Homo sapiens: one gene and its partners. The protein of the gene in region 1 purifies or fractionates together with the protein of each later gene. This does not show direct contact. Each region holds a gene or a part of one and is shown on either strand. Other genes may lie near its edges.

Region 1 (8,003 bases):
GGGGTCCTTATAAGATGAGGAAGAGGCCAGGTGCAGTGGTTCACACCTGTAATCCCAGCATTTTGGGAGGCCGAGGTGGGCAGATCACCTGAGGTCAGGAGTTCAAGAACAGCCTGGCCAACATGATGAAACCCTGTCTCTACTAAAAATACAAAAGCAGCCGGGCGTGGTGGTGCATGCCTGTAATCCCAGCTACTTGGGAGGCTGGGGCAGCAGAATTGCTTGAACCCAGGAGGCGGAGGTTCAGTGAGCTGAGATCACACCATTGCACTCCAGCCTGGGTGACGAGTGAAACTCCGTCTAAAAAAAAAAAAAAAAGAAGAAGAAGAAGAAGAAGAAGAAGAAACATCAGCAACACACATGCACAGAGAAAAGTCCACGTGAGAACCCAGTGAGAAGGCGTCTATTTGCAACCCAAGGAGGGAGGCCTCAGGAGAAATCAAACCATCAACACCTTGATCTTGGACTTCCAGCCTCCAGAATGATGGCTGTCAAAAAAAATTAAACATCATAGAAGCAAGCCCAGAGACTGCCAGAATACGCAGCACATAGATTGATTCATGAGCAAGGAGTGGAAAGATAAAAAGGACTTTAGCATGAATTGTTAAAGTCCTGTTGTCTTGAGGTGTGGGATTGGGTTAGGGATCTGAGGCATCCAGGTTCCTGTCCATAACTGACAATAAGAAGAGAGATGACCTCTAAGTCCATACTGTTCAATACGGCAGCCACTAGCCACCTGTGGTTGTTTAAATTTATTAAAATCAAATTCAGTAAAAAAAACTCAGCTTCTTGTTTACATTAGACCCATGCCAAGGGTTCCATTGCCGCGTGTGACTAGTGGCTACCATATTGGAAGCACCACTCAGACATGGGACATTTCCACCCTCAGTGCAAGTTCTATTATTAGACAGTGCTCATGCTGACCTAGGTAGATGGAAACCAAGAGATGGATTGGAAGAACCTTCCTAGAAATTATATTGCTGTTCGTTCTGCTTCTTGGGGAATGCAAAAAGGAAAAAAAAAAAAGTGGTGGGCATGGAAACTCTCAAGGTTCCCCTGGCTGTGGGTCAGTGTGTCCTTCAAGGGAGCTTGTTGTCACAGCAGGACGAGTTCAGAAGAAACCTGCTGTTTAGCTAAAGCCATGAAGTTGCTGCTGAGACTAATTTTATGCCACCCAACCCCCAAGCCACTCCAATGTCCTGCTTAAAGTATAGTAATTGCCTCGATGCAATCTGTTACTGTAAATTATTTACAGCTAAATGGCTTAGAGCCTGGTCTTTATTTGTTTTGGAGAAACTGATTCCTCACTATTCTAATTTTCCTTATGACTCAAATAACTTCCTTGGCCCTGACTTTCATTTCACCTCTACACCTAGAATGGAAGTTGTCCTCTTCCAAAGTGAGTGGAAAAAAACCCTAGTTGGCTGAATGCTAGGGTTAGGTTCGAGCTTATGAAATTGCCATTGTTATAGGTGAAAATTGTTCAATATCAGCAATTTTCTGTGGTTCAAATGGAATAGCCCCGGTGAAAATTCCTAAGAATTTAAACATCGCCCTCCTCCCTTATAAGCAGAGCCAGAAGCGAGGGAGGGACTGGCCCTACTTGGGGCTATTCCACAAGAAAAGCTGCTGGGAAGACCCAACGATTCAGTGCAGTTAAACTTGTCTTCTGATTCTGAGCTCCCATCATAAGCAAGGCACTGTCGGGGTAAGTAGAAAGAAACTCAGCACTCTTATTTGGGGAGGGGTGAAGTTGGAAAATAAAATGAATGTGCTTACCATAATTGCTGACATTCACTGTGTGTGTTCTATGGGCTATTTCTAAGTTCTTTACATGAAATTACATCAATTCGTCTTGACAAGCACTATGATTGTCCCCATGAGATAAAGGAGGAAACTTGGCATAGAGAGGTAAAGTCATTTGCTCGAGGTCGCATAGCTAGTGAGTCATGGAAGCTGGACCTGGGTTCAGGCTCAGCGGCTCAAGAGTGCACGTCTTGAACCTCAACACCAACACCCCTGGCAGTGGCTACAGAAGAGAGTCTGAGGATGAGAGGGGCAGACACAGGACTTTGGGGGCAGGGTTGGTTTTGGGAGCAGGAGTGTTGCAGGGCATAGAGAGTGTGGTGGTGTTCTGAGGTGGCTGAGAACAAGATCAAAGCCAGGAGCAGAAGATGGTAACCAAGGTCCCTCTGCCGTGAGTTGCAGAACCCGGCCTGGCAGGGCAAGGCAGGGGATGTAGATCAGCCTTCCAGCCTCCACAGGAAAATGGGGAGATAACCCAGCATTTCCAGTGCCCGGGGAGGCAGGAGGGTGGGAGACAGTGAATGGCAGCCCTCCTGGCAGTCAGGTTTTGTGAAAGTCGCAGAGAAAGTACAAGGGGCAGGGAGGGATGGAGGACTTAGGAAAGGGAAGGTCAGACACAAATGTGCACAGGGAGGATTGCAAAGCACGACAGCCCAGTGGGGCTGAGAAGGAGCCTTCAGGACACAGCGGACCAAGAGATATCATTTTGGTCCCCTGATGGGTGAGACTCCAGCAAATAACTTTTTCCTTTCTTTGTGGCAAAGGCCAAGAGAGGTGGCTGCTCCTGCCTTAGCTGAGGAATTGAGTATCTGATCTCCGTCTCAGGCCAACCTAAGACCCCCCCTGCCCCAGCCCCACCTCCCACCCCCTGCCTAATCCTTCAGATGAGAAAGTTCTGTTTCCTCCTTCCTTTGCGCAGGACCAACCCTGGCCAAAGAATCTTCCCCCTCCTCCTTCTTTCCCTCCCACCTCTCTTCCCTCCTTCCCTCCCCCTTCCCAGCCTGGCCATGAATAAAGCTCATAACGCTACCTGCCGAGCAAGCCGAGTGGAGGGAGGCAAAGGCCAGGCTGAGGATCAGGGTGGCCCGGGTGGCAGCGGGGAGGCGCTGCATGCTGGAGGCTGTGCTGAGTGCCCGGTGCAGGTGAGCCGGTCCTGCGGAGTTGTGCCGAGTGCCTGCTGCAGGTGAGTCGACTCCCACCTGCAGGAGCTGGAAAGCAACTCTGCCAGAGGTGAACTTATGCTGGGTGTTTGGGGGAAACACCATGGGGTGGAGCAAAGGAAACTTGGCCTGTCACACCTTCTCTCACCTCTCTAGAAGGGAAGCCAAACCGTTGGCTGAGGAAGGAAGGGAGGGGCAAGCTGTGCCCTTCTCCCCTGAGCGCAAATATTGTCCTTATTGAGAAACAAGGGGAGGACAAGAGAGATCTGTGTCATGCTGGTTCCTGGGACATGAGTTTGCTGCCTCTCCCATCTGCAGGTGTAGCATGGATGCTCAATTCCATTTGGGCCAATATTCACTGAGCACCCACTATGCTGAAGTTGGGAGATACCTGCTGTCGAAGTGCGTTAATTACAAACACGCATCATTCAACCCCAGAACCGTGTTTGAGGAATGGCTTGGGAGGATAAAGCACTGTGGGTTTCAACAGTGGAGGCCACATCTGCTGATGGGATGCTTCAAGAAGAAAATGGCATTTGAGGTTGGGCATGGGGGCTCACCCTGTAGTCCCAGCACTCTGGGAGGCTGAGGCAGGTGGATCACTTGAAGTCAGGAGTTCAAGACCAGCCTGGCCAAAATGGTGAAACCCCATCTCTAATAAAAATACAAAAATTAGCCAGGTGTGGTGGTGCATGCCTGTAGTCCCAGCCACTTGGGAAGCTGAGGCAGGAAAATCGCTTGAACCCGGAAGACAGAGGTTGCAGTAAGCTGAGATGCTCCTGACCCTGCATTCCAGCTTGGCCGACAGAGGGAGACTCCATCTCCAAAAAAAAAAAAAAAAAAAAAAAGAAAATGGCATTTGGCCTGGGCCTTGAAGGATGGCTAGAATTTTGACAGGGGGAGAGGGGAAGATGGCATTATAGGTAGAGGGACAGATGAGCAAAGGTCCAGAGGTAAGGAAGTGTCAGAGGGTGGCTGTACCAGCAGCACCCAGAAGCGCAGGTGAGCCAAGGCATGTGAGGTGGGGAGGCAAGAGGAGAGCTGTGGGCTAAGCTTCTGCGTGCCTGGTAGAGGAATTTGAAACAAAGTCAGGAAGCAAAGGGGAAGGTTCTGTAGAGATTTTGAGCTGAGGAGTAACTTGACTAGAGCTCTGCATTCCGTCTAAAACATTTATTGAAGACCCACATGTATATAAAAGGTCTCATCCTAGGCACTGGAGACTGAGATGACTGAGACACGCCTCTTCCCCTTGAGAGCACAGTGCAGCAGGGAACCAAACCCGGAAGAAAGAAATTTGATGCAACCTGGCAAGACTCAAATAGGGGTACCTTCCACTGTGATGGGAATAAAAAGGAGGATGGGATGAACTCTGCCTGAGAGGTATAGGGGAAGGATTCACAGAGAAAGTGACATTTGGGCTGGGTGCTGAAGTTTGTATGTGCAGATTAGAGTTGATGGGCTTTTCAAGTCAAAGGAATAGCACCTATAAAGGCGAGGGAATCGTCTGTGTGCACACAGCCTGCCATGTGTGGAAGTGTTCCTGCGCATGAATGGGCCTGGTAAGGGTGAGGGGTGGACTCCAGCTCTGTGGAAAGACATAGAAGGCGTGAGTAAGCCCCAAGGAAAGATTTCCTAGTGGAGTGTAACAGCCCAGGGGAGGCACTTTTTTCTAATTGGCTCTAAGATATAAAATAGTGGTGGCCTATGTTCCTGGATTTGGGGATAGGGCCAACGTGCCCTAGGAAGGGTGATTTTCAGTCAGTGCACAGAAGTCCAGTTTAGGCATTACCACTAGTTGAACATTAAACAGTTGCATGCCAGGCCAGGCTCTCGGTGTGGGGACCTGGGGGTGAGAAAGACCACACAGCCCTTGTGCTCAAGGAACTCAAGGTCCCCACAGAGAGGACGCTGCTTAGTAGAACAAATGCTGTCCTCGATGTTTTCCTCACAAGTAAACCCTGCAGTGGGCTTCACAGGGCAGGACTGATTTATCCAATGGGTACTAGGGATAACAGCGGTACGTGGAATCCCCAAGATTTCCAAGGATCTCAAAAATGTTTGAGACCTGAGAAAATATTCTCAGATCCAAAATTTGAAGAACAGACCAGGCATATTGGCACACGCCTGTCATCCCAACACTTTGGGAGGCCGAGGTGGGAAGATCACTTGAGCCAGGGAGTTCAAGACCAGCCTGCACAACATAGTAAGACCCTGCCTCCGCAAAACAAACAAAAAAAAACACAAAAAAATTACTTGGGTATGGTAGTGTGCACCTGTAGTCTCAGCTACTCAGGAGGCTGAGGTGGGAGGATCACTTGAGCCCAGGAGGTTGAGGCTGCAGTGAGCTGAGATGGCACCACTGCACTCCAGCCTGGGTGACACAGTGAGACCCTGTCCCCAAACAAACAAACAAAAATTTGAACAATCAAAAACTGGGCAAAATAAATGATTGTTTCAAAAGCAAAGTTATACAGTTCACTTGAAATGTTTAAACGGAAACGATTTAATGTGGGACGCTGGGTGCATTTTAATGTGTTTGACGTGAGCAGAGCCTGTCCCTCCTATGGAATCGGAACCTGAGGTATGCAAACATGTAAGATGGCCTGCCTGGGGTTATTGTAGTGGTGGATTGAACAGCATCTGCAGCCTAAGCTGAGACCATCCTATCAAGTCGTATCAGGGAAAGCTTTTCTGGCAAGCAGTGGATGTGGAGGAGGGGGATAATGTGTTGGCCCTCCCTCCCTATTTTATCATTGTTATGTGATGTCGGACTGTTTTAGATGAGCTGTTTGTAGGACAAACATTCTCCTATCTACAGATGGAAGAACTTTGTTATTCGAAAATAGTATAGGCTGGGCCAGGCACGGTGGCTCAGGCCTGTAATCCCAGCACTTTGGGAAACTGAGGCAGGTGGCTCATTTGAGGTCAGGAGTTCGAGACCAGCCTGGCTAACATGGTGAAATCCCATCTCTACTAAAAAAATTCAGAAATATTAGCCAGGCGTGGTGGTGCATGCCTGTAATCCCGGCTACTTGGGAGGCTGAGGCAGGAGAATCACTTGAACTGGGGAGGTGGAGGTTATAGTGAACCGTGATTGTGCCACTGCACTCCAGCCTGGGCAACAGAGTGAGACTCTGTCTCAAAAAAAAAAAAAAAAAATAGGGTGGGCTGGACTGGCCAATGATAACTATTAACCCCAAAGAAAGGGCTGTGTGTGTGTGGCCACTTTTTACTTTACGAGTGTCACCAGTATTTGCTGTTTGTAGCAGGTCTACAACTAACAACTCCATGTGGCCCATTTCCTCACTCATACATTTTGCATCAGGTTTACTTTGGAGCGCATATCAGGAAGTTGCCTTACTCAAAGCTAGACTTTCTCAAGACTTTTTTTTTTTTTAAATGGGTGAGATAGGTATTTGGTTACACACACTATTTTAAAAGTTCAGGCTGAAATGTCTGTGGCTAGGCACCATGGTGGTGGTTGGAGAGAGGAGTAGCCAAGAGAGTGGGATTCCAGGGCTCTTACTGCTTCCAATTTCACCTGTTATCCCTGATAAGATTTCATGTGAAAAAGAAAAGAAGTAGGCAGAGAGTTTCCAGGGCTAAAAGATGGAAAACCTGCAGTCTGTGGCCTGGAACGGCCCAGGGAAGAATATTTCATGTTAATGAAGCTTCTCTTGTGATTCTGATAGGCCCCGTTGCCACCTGTCCATCTCGGGGAAAAGACCTCTCACCTTGAACTTGGGTTTTTCATCTCCAGTTAACCCAAAATCTATTCAGAGGAGAATTGTGGCCCTAACCAAGCCTGTGCCTGCCAAGCCCCAGCTCCCTCACAGAGATGGGGTTGATGGCTCTTCTTGCTCCTGGCTCTGTCAGGATCTGTTTTTACAAAATAATGTCAGGCTCTGGGTGGTTGTGGGACCGAAACATCTAGATGTGGACCTGAGCAGCACTTAGTTTGTGGAGGAGTTAACCTCACTCCCTGCCCTTCAGTGATGGGTCTGTAATTTGGAGAGAACAAGAGGTTCCCTTTTAGGAAACCTTGAGAACTACAGCTGTTAAGATCATGCCATAGAGTTAGTTGATCAAAGTAAGAAAGTCAGCAAGGAAGTCCTGGAGTCCACCATTTGGAATAATTTTTGAACACTTCCCAGGATGACTAATTTAGCTTGTTCAAAATTGCACTGGGAGGCGGTGCAGCTATGGTCCAGACACGCGGAGGTTAACACAAAGGAGGTCCTTCCTCTTGGCGAAAACAACCTTCCACCTAGGTCCTGTATCTTATTCCCTCCCATCTTCTCTGAAGTATATTTCTTAATTTCCAAACATACGGAGGTTTTCTAGTTATCTTTTTGTTATTGATTTGTAGCTTAGTTGCACTGTGACCTGCGAATATACTTTGATGATTTCTATTTTTTGATGTTAGTTAAAAGACACCATATGACCAATTTTTGTGGCTCTTGAATGTGTCATGCAGTTGTGGGGTCAGTGCTCCGGGTAAGTCCATTAGATCAAGAGTGCTAATTGTGTGGTTCAGAACATCCATATTTTTCCTGTCTTTTAAAATTTGGTCTAATTATTCTGTTGAATACAGAGATGATTGCGGGTTTCTTTCTTCCCTGTAGTTTTGTCAACTTTTGCATTCAATATTTGAGGCTGTAATTGAGGTACAAACAAATACGGAATTTTGACAACTTCCTGGCAAATTGAACCTTCTTTTAAAAAATCATTGTGTAATATCCCTCATCTCTTTTATATTTTTGAGATGGAGTCTCTCTCTGTCGCCCAGGCTGGAATGCAGTGGCACGATCTCGGCTCACTGCAACTTCCACCTCCCGGGTCCAAGCGATTCTTCTTCCTCAGTCTCCTGAGTAGCTGGGATTACAGGCGTGTGCCACCACCCCCGGGTAATTTTTGTATTTTTGGTAGAAACAGGGGTTTCACCATGTTGGCCAGGCTGGTCTTGAAATCCTGACCTCAGGTGAGACTCCCGTCTCAGCCTCCCAAAGTGCTGGGATTACAGGTGTGAGCCACTGC
Region 2 (7,031 bases), on another chromosome or scaffold:
ATTTTAGCCTGAAAAATTTTAAAGGAAGGCATAACCAGACATTCAGTGGTCTACAACAGCCCAAATGGCATCCAAGATTAAAACTTACATGTTGTGATTCTCAACCCAACCTTTCTTCCTCAACACTACGAAATCTCCCTTCAGCCTCCTTAATATATTTTCGGGCACCTGATGATGTTTGGTTGTGGCACTTACAGAAACTCAAAACAAGCAGGATATTTTATACAAATCTGATCGTACAATATAAAAGTTATTATTAATAATAAAGTCTCACCATATGCACACATCTTAAATAACGGGATTCCTCATTAAATACTCATCAAGAATCTCATAATTTAAAAGCTGGAAGGTAAATTACAAACAACGCTTACCCTACCACCACCATGGCACCACTTCGGCCATTCTTGACAGAATTATTCTTTAAATTATGCAAGTTTTAAATCATAAAATTTTTAGAAACTCATCCCTAACTTGCAGTAAAATGCAACCAATTCATATCGACATCCCTTAGCTAACAGCTAAAGAAAATAAAGGATTGTTAAACCAAAGTTATTAAACTAATAAATAATTATTAGTTTCACTAAATTCTGCTTCTATTAAGCCTAAGTTTATTTCCCTAACATATATCAGGACCTTAAGCAACTTCAAACCTACTCTTCAAACCTGTCAGTGAATAACCACTTCTTTTTTTTTTTTTTTTTTTTTTTGAGACAGAGTCTCACTCTGTTGCCCAGGCTGCAGTGCAGTGGCACAATCTCAGCTTACTGCAATCTCCGTCTCTTGGGTTCCAGCAATTCTCCTGCCTCAGCCTCCGGAGTAGCTGGGATCACAGGTGTGAGCCACCACACCCGACAGAATAAACACTTCTAATATATCAATTAACATTAACTTAAGACACTAACGTCCTCTCTTCTTCTTCTTCTTTTTCTTCTTCTTTCCAGTTGCTCCATCTCCATCGCCATCTCCATCTAAGAAAAGACATTTCAAGTACATGTTCATTTAAACCTCATAAGCAGAGGGACAAAGCAAGTACAAGGAGACAAGTATTTGCTCTATTCAATAAATGAACAAACGTTAGTTTATTTTATCTTGTTTACATTTATTCTTTCACTGAAATAAGAAATAGGAAGCAGCTACCAGGTGTGGTGGCACATGCCTATAGTCCCAGCTACTAGGGAAGCTGAGGTGGGAGGATCACTTGAGCCAAGGAGTTGGAATCCAGCTTGGGCAACATAGTGAGACTCCAACACTAAAAAATTTAGAAACAGGAAGCAGCAGTTTAGCAAAGTGGGAGGTAACGTGATCTAGGACTTACGTGGGTTGAACCATATGAAAATGCCAATACTTGACCATTTTTGGTCAAAATTGCCACTTCTTTTCTTTCTTTTTTTGAAACAGGGTCTAGCTCTGTTGCCCAGGCTGGAGTGCAATGGCGCAATCTCAGCTCACTGCAACCTCCGCCTCCCAGGTTTGAGTGATTCTCATGTCTCAGCCTCCACCTCCCAAGTATCTGGGATTACAGGTGCATGCCACCATGCCCATCTAATTTTTTTTTTTTTTTTTTTTAGTAGAGATGGAGTTTCGCCATGTTGACCAGGCTGGTCTCGAACTCCTGACATCAAGTGATTTGCCAGCCTTGGCCTCCCAAGTCCTGGGATTATAGGCGTGAGCCACTGTACCCAGCCTCAAAATCACCATTTCTTATGTTCAATCTTATGAAATTATCAAAAACCTAGCAGGCAGAAGAGAACAGTAGAAGTACAAATATTAGGCTAGGTAAAGTGGTTCACACCTGTAATCCTAGCACTTTGGGAGGCTGAGGCAGGTGGATCACTTGAGCCCAGGAGTTTGAGACCAGTCTGGAGGACATGGTGAAACCCTGTCTCTACTAAAAGTACAAAAAATTATCCAGGTGTGGTGGTATGCGCCCATAGTCCCAGTTACTTGGAAAGCTGAGATGTGGGAGGATCACCTGAGCCAGGGAAGTCAAGGCTGCAGTGAGCTGAGATCGAGCCACAGCACGTCAGCCTGGGTGACGGGAGGGAGATCTTGTATCCTAACAACAACAAACCCAAAACACAAATATTGCTGACTTATTCATTATGGATTTTTAGATTCAAAAGCCTAACAAAAGGCACACGAAAAATTATAATCTAATTCACATATCGTGCACTGTAACGTTAACAGTAACCTTCTTCACCCCATTAAATGTTTGTTGGGCTCTTAAGTGCCAGGCAATAGGGACAGAAAAATAAGATAGTTTCTGTTCTGGAGAAACAATAGTTTTTTCCAGACTAAAACTGGTTATGAATCTTGAAGTATTTGTTTTAGGTTGTGACTAGTGTATGTAGCACTATACCTAGTGTATGTAGCACAACCTAAAACAAATACTTGAAGATACATCACCAATTTTAAACATATACTAAAAATCTTTCCATCTGGGTGACCTTGGGCAAGTTATTTAGCCTCCCTCTACCCTGGTTTCTTCATCTTTAAAATGGAACAAAAAGGTCCTTCTTTGATACTTTCATCCTTTTGAGGCTAATTACCTTATTCAATGTCCAATGTCTGTATTCAGTACAGAAAAACAGCCACCATTTATAGAACTTTGTGCCAGGATGGCAGCAGAGCCAGGATCTGAGTATTAATCTATATATGTTTATAGTTCCAACCATTATACCATGTTGAAATTTGTGCTTTTACATGTCTTTTCTTCACAGTATCCCAGCATATTCTTCATAGGCAGAGATGGTTGGTTTTTTTGGTTTTTCTGTGACAGGGTCTCACTCTGTTGCCCAAGCTGGAGTGCAGTGGCAGGATCACAGCTCACTGCAGCCTCAATCTCCCAGACTCAGGAAATCCTCCCACCTCAGCTTCCTGAATAGCTGAGACTACAGGCACGCACCACTATACCTGGCTAATGTTTTTTAATCTTTTGCAGAGACAAGGTCTAAGTTGCCCAGACTGGTCTCGAATCGCATCTCAGCCTCCCAAAGTGCTGGGATTATAGGCATGAGCCACCAGGCCTGGCCAGCAGAGGCTGCTTATGTTTATTTGTGTTACTACTATGCCCAAATCAGTTGATATCTGTTGAATGACAACTGGAAATCATATTTTAAAAAAAAGAGTCTCAAGCTTTTAAGCTCTGCCTTGCACTATCTAGAAACATTAATTCTAAATGAACCATAGACCTAAACATAACAGCTAAAAATATATAAAACTTCTTGAAGAGAACACAGAACATCTTTGTGACCTTAGAGACAGCAATGACTTAACTTTTTAGACAGGACACAAAAAGCACTACCCATAAATTTAAAAAACAGATAGATTGGACTTTATCAAAATTAAAACTGTCCTATAAGCAATACCATTAACCAGGTGAATAGCCATCCCATAGAAATATCTGTAAAACATATTATCTGATAAAGAACTTGCAACCAGAATATACAATGAACTATTACAATTCAATAGGATGACAAATAACCCAATAAAACATGGACAAAAAATGTGAACAAACACTTTACCAAAGATAAAGGAAAAAGCAAATAAAAACATGAAAAGATGCTCAATATCATTAGGGAAGTGCATATTAAAACCACAATGACAAAGCACTACATACCCATTATCAAAGACTAAAATTTTAAAACAAATACCAAGTCCTTACAAGGATACGAACAACCTGAAACTCTCAACCATTGCTAAGAGGAATGCAAAACAGCATAGCCACTTTGGAAACCAGACAGCTTCTTAGGAGTTTAAACACATACTTACCATATGACAGGCAACCCAGTCCTATTTACTCAAGAGAAATGAAAACATATCTACACATAGACCCATATGCAAATGTTCATAGTAACTTCGTTCACAACAGACCAAAACTGTAAACACCCCAAATATTGTTCAATGTAAAAGGGTAAAACATATTAGGAATACTACTTGCAATAAAAAGGAATGTGCTATTGATAAATGCACAACTCGATGACTGTCAAAAGTATTATGCTAAGTAAAACAAGCCAAACACAAAAAACTACATACCGAATAATTCCATTTATAGGATACTCCAGGAAAGGCCAAAACTAGGGTCAGAAAACGTATCAGTGATTGCTAAGGGTTAGGTATAGTGCAAGAGAACCAACTACAAGAGACACAACTTTTTTCTGGAGATGGAAATGTTAAATGGAAATAGTCTGTATCTTCCGTCGTGGTAGTAGTTACACAATTGCATACTTTGTCAAAACTCACCAAACTATACACTTAAAAAGGATGACTATTGGGGCCAGGTATGGTGGCTCACGCCTGTAATCCCAGCACTTTGGGAGGCTGAGGCGGGCGGATCACTTGAGGCCAGGAGTTCGAGACCAGCCTGGCCAACATGGTGAAACCCTGTCTCTACTAAAAATACAAAAATTAGCTGGGAGTGGTGGCGGGCACCTGTAATCCCAGCCACTCAGGAGGCTGAGGCAGGAGAATCGCTGGAACCCGGAAGGCAGAGGTTGCAGTGAGCTGAGATCGTGCCACTGCACTGCAGCCTGGACAAGAGTGAGACTCCGTCTCAAAAAAAAAAAAAAAGAGTGGTGACTATTATTTTAGGGAAATTATATGTTAATGAGCCTGACTCAAAATGTATTGAATGAATTACCTCCAGCACACTGTCAGATGACCACAGGATCAACTTTTTATACCAATACCACAGTTTCCAATTCAGCACATCTAAAATTAAACTTAGTACCCTCTTCTTTGCCTGCAAACCTCTCCCCCAATGTCTAACTGGCTCTTTCCCAACTTCACTATTTCAGTCAACAGCACCAACATTCTGTCACCCAAGTGCAAACTCCCAGAGTCCACTAATGCCTTACTCCTGCTCCCAGAATGCAAGTCTCCAAGTCTTTTGAATTCTGCTTCCACACTACTGTTCACTGGATCCTTCCTCTCCATGCCTATTTATGACTATCAGTTTACATCTTCATTACCATATGCCTGGGCTATTTCTAAGAGGCCTCCAAAATGATCTCCTCCTTGCCTTTCCTACACACTTCCTCTCCTCTAAACAACCCTGTATACAGGTAAAGCCTAAATTATTATTTCATAACATTCCTTTTTTGTTAAGAGACAGGGTCTTACTATGTTACCCAGGTTGGAGTGCAGTGGCCAGTCACAGGTGTTTTCGTAGCATACTGAAGCCCCCTGGACTCAAAGATCCTCCCATCCCAGCCTCCCAAGTAGCTGGGATTACAGGCACCAGCCACTGTGCTTGGCTCATAACATTTCTTAAAAATCCTCTAAGGCTCCCTCAATCTATCACCTCATATGGCAAGCTTGTATTACCACAATGCTTCAAATGTTTTCTCAGCATTACCCCAACCCAAAATAGTTCCTTTGTTTGGTTTTACTCAAGTTCTATTCCTTCCAATGAGCCTTCCTTCGGCATTCAGCCCACACTTATACCACCAAATTTCAATAAATTTTATTACAGGTACCCAAATACCTTTTCACTTCTAGGTTTTGTCTGTCTACCACATCCTTAGTTTTCTTTATTTTTTCTTATTTTTTGAGACAGAGTTTCACTTTTGTTGCCCAGGCTAAAGTGCAATGGCGCAACCTCCACTGACAGCAACCTCCACCTCCTGGGTTCAAGCAATTTTCCTGCCTCAGCCTCCCGAGTAGCTGGGATTACAGGCACCCACCACCACACCTGGCTAATTTTTTGTATTTTTAGTAGAGATGGGGTTTCACCATGTTGGTAAGGCTGGTTTTGAACTCCTGACCTCAGGTGATCCACCCACCTCAGCCTCCCAAAATGCTGGGATTACAGGCGAGAGCTAACACACCTGGTCTAGTTTTCCATTAGGAGAAAGATCTTGAAACACTAGCTTTCCATTCCCTCAAAGACCTAACAACAGGTAAGTAGTATTGACTGACTCTGATTACTGAAATAACTACAAATATTCCTAAAATCTTCTTTAATACATTGAAGATTTCCAACCTGATGGGCAACTTTGTAGAGATGTAACAGAACAAGATAACACTTCAAGATTAGCACTGTGATTTTTTTTGGGGGGTGGGGGGAGGTGGACGGGTATAGACATAGGGTCTCACTATGTTGCCCAGGCTTGTCTGGATTACAGGCATAAGCCACCACACCCAGCCAATATTTTTTAACTAGCCTGACAGGCCCAGGAAGCATTATGATACCATATACACAGTGGGTCTATAGCAATCTATTATATTGCCTTGAATTTACAAAACATTTTCTTGTGAAGAGCTCAAAATAAGTTCATAATCTAAAGCATAAGCCAATGTAGAACAGAGGTTTAAGGAAGAGGAAAAGCTAGTAATTCCCTTGAATCTTGGCACTTTTTTCCACCAAATGTTCACTATAAGCTTCTTGAAGGCAGAGAACATACCACTCTAAAGGAAAACAACTACTCTACATTACCCTAACACAATAATTACAGCCCCAACTAATGGTTAAAGACCTAACCCCAGGCTGGTGGTGCTTGAGGGGGAGCAGATGTTCTCAGTAGTAGGCAGCTACAAATAAAAAGAATGGGAAAGCCCCATTTTTCCTCCGCCAAAAGAGGCTGGAAAAAAGTTAAGTTTTCTTACCTGTCTCTTCCTTCACTGTTTTACTGATAACATCAATTAGCAGTTGCTGTCTTTAAAAAAATCTTATTGTACCCAAACACCCAGAAGGAGCTAGGGTCAAGGAATTTATAATAAAACTTAGTGCACTCCTATACGATTCTTTCAGAATGAAAAGAGTTAATTTTGGTATAGAGAGTAAAAGGAACAGGCCGGACACAGTAGCTCAAACCTGTAATCCCAGCACCTTGGGAGGCTGAGGTGGGCAGATTACTTGAGGTCAGGAGTTCAAGACCAACCTGGCAAAACCCCATTTCTACTAAAGATACAAAAAAATTAGTTGGGCATGGTGGCAGGCGCCTGTAATCCCAGCTACTCGGGAGGCTGAGGCAGGAGAATTGCTTGAGCTCGGGAGGTCGCAGTGATCCGAGATCACGCCACTGCACTCC
Region 3 (4,734 bases), on another chromosome or scaffold:
GACAGATCCTTTACTGACTCCCATGGAAAAGGCCTCTCTCCAAGCCATGAGCCTGGAAGAGGCAAAGATGCACCGAGCAGAGCTTCAGAGGGCTCGGGCTCTGCAGTCCTACTATGAGGCCAAGGCTCGAAAAGAGAAGAAAATCAAAAGTAAAAAGTATCACAAAGTCGTGAAGAAAGGAAAGGCCAAGAAAGCCTTAAAAGAGTTTGAGCAGCTACAGAAGGTTAATCCAACTGTGGCACTGGAAGAAATGGAAAAAATTGAAAATGCCAGAATGATGGAAAGAATGAGCCTTAAGCACCAAAACAGTGGGAAATGGGCCAAGTCAAAGGCAATTATGGCCAAATATGACCTGGAGGCTCGCCAAGCTATGCAGGAACAGTTGGCCAAGAACAAAGAACTGACACAGAAACTCCAGGTAGCCTCTGAGAGTGAGGAAGAGGAGGGAGGCACAGAAGTGGAAGAACTCCTTGTCCCTCATGTAGCGAATGAAGTGCAGATGAATGTGGACGGACCGAATCCCTGGATGTTCAGGAGCTGCACCAGTGACACCAAAGAGGCTGCAACACAGGAGGACCCTGAGCAAGTGCCAGAGCTTGCAGCTCATGAGGTTTCTGCAAGTGAGGCAGAAGAAAGACCAGTGGCAGAGGAAGAAATTTTGTTGAGAGAATTTGAGGAAAGGCAATCCCTTAGAAAAAGATCTGAGCTCAACCAGGATGCTGAGCCAGCAAGCAGTCAAGAAACAAAAGATTCTAGCAGCCAGGAGGTGCTGTCCGAATTGAGGGCACTATCTCAGAAATTGAAGGAAAAACATCAGTCCAGGAAGCAAAAAGCAAGTTCAGAGGGGACTGTTCCCCAGGTCCAGAGAGAGGAACCTGCCCCAGAAGAAGCGGAACCCCTATTGCTACAGAGGTCAGAGAGAGTACAAACTCTGGAAGAGCTAGAAGAGCTGGGAAAAGAAGATTGTTTTCAAAATAAGGAGCTTCCCAGACCTGTGTTAGAAGGACAGCAGTCAGAGAGGACCCCAAATAATCGGCCTGATGCCCCTAAGGAGAAGAAAGAGAAGGAGCAACTGATCAACCTACAGAACTTCCTGACCACACAGTCTCCTTCCGTGAGGTCTTTGGCAGTTCCCACAATAATAGAGGAGCTGGAAGATGAAGAGGAGAGAGACCAAAGGCAGATGATAAAGGAAGCTTTTGCTGGGGATGATGTCATCAGAGATTTCTTGAAAGAGAAGAGGGAAGCTGTGGAGGCGAGTAAGCCAAAGGACGTGGACCTGACACTACCTGGCTGGGGCGAGTGGGGTGGTGTGGGCCTAAAGCCCAGTGCCAAGAAAAGACGCCAGTTTCTCATTAAAGCCCCTGAGGGTCCTCCAAGAAAAGATAAGAATTTGCCAAATGTGATTATCAGTGAGAAGCGCAACATCCACGCAGCAGCTCATCAGGTACAAGTGCTTCCATATCCATTTACCCACCATCGGCAATTTGAAAGGACCATCCAGACCCCTATAGGATCCACATGGAACACCCAGAGGGCTTTCCAAAAGCTGACTACTCCCAAGGTCGTCACCAAGCCAGGCCATATCATTAAGCCCATAAAAGCAGAGGATGTGGGCTACCAGTCTTCCTCAAGGTCAGACCTGCCTGTCATACAGAGGAATCCAAAACGAATCACCACACGTCACAATAAAGAAGAAAAACTGTAGGTTGTGTAGCTGGAGAAGTGACAGTCAGGGGCCCTGATTCCACTTCCTTTGGTCCAGTTTTACTCTGCTACAGGGTGGATTCCAAAACTGGCTCAGCACATTGCATGTAGTTGAGCCACATTTTTTAAAAAAAGAAAATGGATGACCATTAATTGACTAGCATTTTAGAATTGATCAGACATTAGAACACAGAAAAATTCTAGTACATTTAAATTCTAAACAATACAGTGGATGACCCTTTTGAATATACCTAATGATTTCCTTAAAAAAGAAATTTTAAACAGACTTGTTTAATCGTGTTCTCAAAGCATACAGTCAAGAGGTGGGACTGACTGATGCTTTATAGGTGTGTGTAGGGTGGTAGAGGCCAAGGTGCTGCCAGCAATCCTTTCCATACTAGGTACTGGTGAAAATTGTTTTTGTTTATGCTGTCAGCACATTTGTGTGGGTCTCTCATTGTCCCTTAACAGTGCCGCATCTCAGCCTGGAAGTCAGCTTTAAGTCATTCAAGAGAACCTCAGGCTGTTTTTCTGACAGTGATGATATGATATACAGATACATCCACAGGGTATCTATTACCAGCATAATGCATTGTAAGATGGCAAGGTGGCATTTTGAAAGAGCGCTGGGCAAGCAGTTAGCACATCTGGGCCTACCTTCAGCTTCTTCATTTACAAACTTCTGACCTTTTGACACTAAAGCTGCTCCTTTATCTTTCTGAGTCTCAGATTCTTCATCTGTAATCTGGAGTTGTTAATTCCAGTCCTTACTACCTTTTAGAGTTGGAATGAGATGGAAAGTAGATGAAACTACTTTGAAAATTACGACAGTTAAGGGCTGGGTGCGGTGTCTCACACCTGTAATCCCAGCACTTTGGGAGGCCGAGATGGGTGGATCATGAGGTCAGCAGTTGAGACCAGCCTGAACAACATGGTGAAACCCTGTCTGTACTAAAAATACAAAAAAATTAGCTGGGCCTGGTGGCAGGCACCTGTAATCCCAGCTACTTGGGAGACTGAGGCAGGAGAATTGCTTGAAACTGGAAGGCAGAGGTTGCAGTGAGCCAAGATTGTGCCACTGCACTCTAGCCTGGGCAATAAGCAAAACTCCATCTCAAAAAAGAAAAAAAGGAAAAAGAAAATTATGAGAGTTACTTAAAGGTAACATCACATACTAAATGTCTTCTATAATCCTATATTTATTAATGCATTACAACTCTGTAGATTGTTAGTTACTAGGCCAGTAGCTAGGAATTGGTATAAATTTAATGCACCTTCTATCCTGAATAACTAGCATGGAAAAGTGAATATATGTGTGAGCAGATATGGCTATAAAGACCTATAGCTTTTGCACTTTATGCATATATAATCAATCCTTTCTAGTTCAGTGAATTGACCCCATCCACAGGCTGATTCATCTTTGTGTTAAGGGGCAAATGAAACGGTATATTATTTCTTTGCAGTCTCCTCTCAGTCATTCATCAATGTGGCCAGCTTATCTACTCCCAATTATGTTGTTGATACATCTCCAAGCCATCTGTCATCAGATCAAAAAGCAGCAAACAGAGGGTCAGTCACAGGATGTTCTGACACACCATTGTAACTTTTTGTTAGAGATGATCCCATTTAGAAAAAGACTGGTAGAAATTGGAGTGAAAGGAACCCTACAGATTAGCCCAGTTCTCTCTTATTTTCAGCTTTACAGACAAGAACAATTTAAATCTAAAGAATTTAGTAGATTCCTTCAGTGTCACAAAGCTGTTTCATGAAAGAATCAAGATTATAACCTGGATATTCTGACTCCTGGCCCAGTGCTTTTTCTTACTTTGTAGCTACACTTTGAAGTAAGATTCAAACTGTTATCCACTCAATTGCCTTATTCCTGAGGATGTAGTGAAGGAAGAAAAAGTTTTCTGGAATTCCGTAAATTATATTTTAAGCTTATTTCTTCAAAATTATTTTCATATATCACAGATATATCATTGGAAGATATAATTTGCATATATGTTCATTATCAGTGTTCCTAATTTGGTATTACATGTATTCTATTTTTTTCTGAATGATAGCATGAAAAGTGTCAAAGTGGTTTGTCCGCTAGCGTCTGTCTGCAGAACTTTCAGGATGACTATTAATTCCTCTCAGATGTCATTTTTGAGTGGTCCAAGCCTGCTGTTTTGAACCCACAGCAGTGGAGATTTGTATTCTTATTTACAGTTGTGTACTATAAAGTGTGTGTTACATAGGTTTTGTGTAATAATTATTTGTAAATATTATTTAGATTTGTATTTAGACATGATTTATATCTAATATAGATACAAAGTCTGTGTCTAAATATTATTTAAAGAAGTGATTTTTCATTCTCTTGGATTCTTTCCAGTGTGGTGCCTTTTATATGCCTCACATAGTCTCCTTGTTCTCCTACTAATATTCCCAAGCTCCATATGCCAATTAAAGAAGAAACAAAAATAAAAGTTTGTCTTGCTTGTGAAACATTAAGAAGAGGCTGTCAGGTTTAATAAACTTTTTAATGAATATTTCAGACATAACAAAAAACTGCAGAGCTTCGTACACTTGATTTAAATAATTCTTGAGGGATTTTATAAGGTCATCTTATAGACAAAATTAAGAGACACCAGTGTGGTTATCAATGCTTTCAGAATACTTGTGTTTATGTAAATATACCCCAGAGTCCAAAACTCTGATATATTCATATATATTCACAATGAGAGGATGTCTGTGCCAAATCTGTCAATCAGTACAATAGAAAAGTTAATTATATAACTACAACACGAAACACAAATTTTTAGAAGCAAATTATGTCCTGTAATTTACCCCCCTCCCCGCTGCTCCTCTGCTAACTCATTTTCCTCTTTTCCCACTCTAAATGTAAGGCAACCCTTGGCTTTGGAGAAGCATCTGTTCCAATATTCTGGTGCTATGTGCTCAGTTGTACTATATGCAAATGTTACTAGACACAGAGGAGGTCAAAGTGTTGATACACTTATTGCTACCATTTACAGAATGATC

What was found. The genes of interacting proteins can lie anywhere in the genome.
Region 2: the proteins of TMEM213 (region 1) and METAP2 purify together in Homo sapiens (affinity purification with mass spectrometry; 2 studies listed by BioGRID and IntAct, with this or other methods). This does not show direct contact.
Region 3: the proteins of TMEM213 (region 1) and ALG11 purify together in Homo sapiens (affinity purification with mass spectrometry; 2 studies listed by BioGRID and IntAct, with this or other methods). This does not show direct contact.

The regions. Positions count from the first base shown.
Region 1 is NC_000007.14:138,793,020-138,801,022, reverse strand, and holds the start of TMEM213 (transmembrane protein 213 precursor), read right to left. Parts: upstream 3,030-8,003; 5' UTR 2,919-3,029; coding exon 2,837-2,918; exon of another isoform or gene 2,827-2,836; intron 1-2,826.
Region 2 is NC_000012.12:95,477,152-95,484,182, reverse strand, and holds part of METAP2 (methionine aminopeptidase 2), read right to left. Parts: intron 969-7,031; coding exon 903-968; intron 1-902. UniProt on the Homo sapiens protein: Cotranslationally removes the N-terminal methionine from nascent proteins. The N-terminal methionine is often cleaved when the second residue in the primary sequence is small and uncharged (Met-Ala-, Cys, Gly, Pro, Ser, Thr, or Val).
Region 3 is NC_000013.11:52,029,398-52,034,131, forward strand, and holds the end of ALG11 (GDP-Man:Man(3)GlcNAc(2)-PP-Dol alpha-1,2-mannosyltransferase), read left to right. Parts: coding exon of another isoform or gene 1-1,708; 3' UTR 1,709-4,203; downstream 4,204-4,734. Other genes in the region: UTP14C (U3 small nucleolar RNA-associated protein 14 homolog C), read left to right, coding at 1-1,708. UniProt on the Homo sapiens protein: GDP-Man:Man(3)GlcNAc(2)-PP-Dol alpha-1,2-mannosyltransferase that operates in the biosynthetic pathway of dolichol-linked oligosaccharides, the glycan precursors employed in protein asparagine (N)-glycosylation.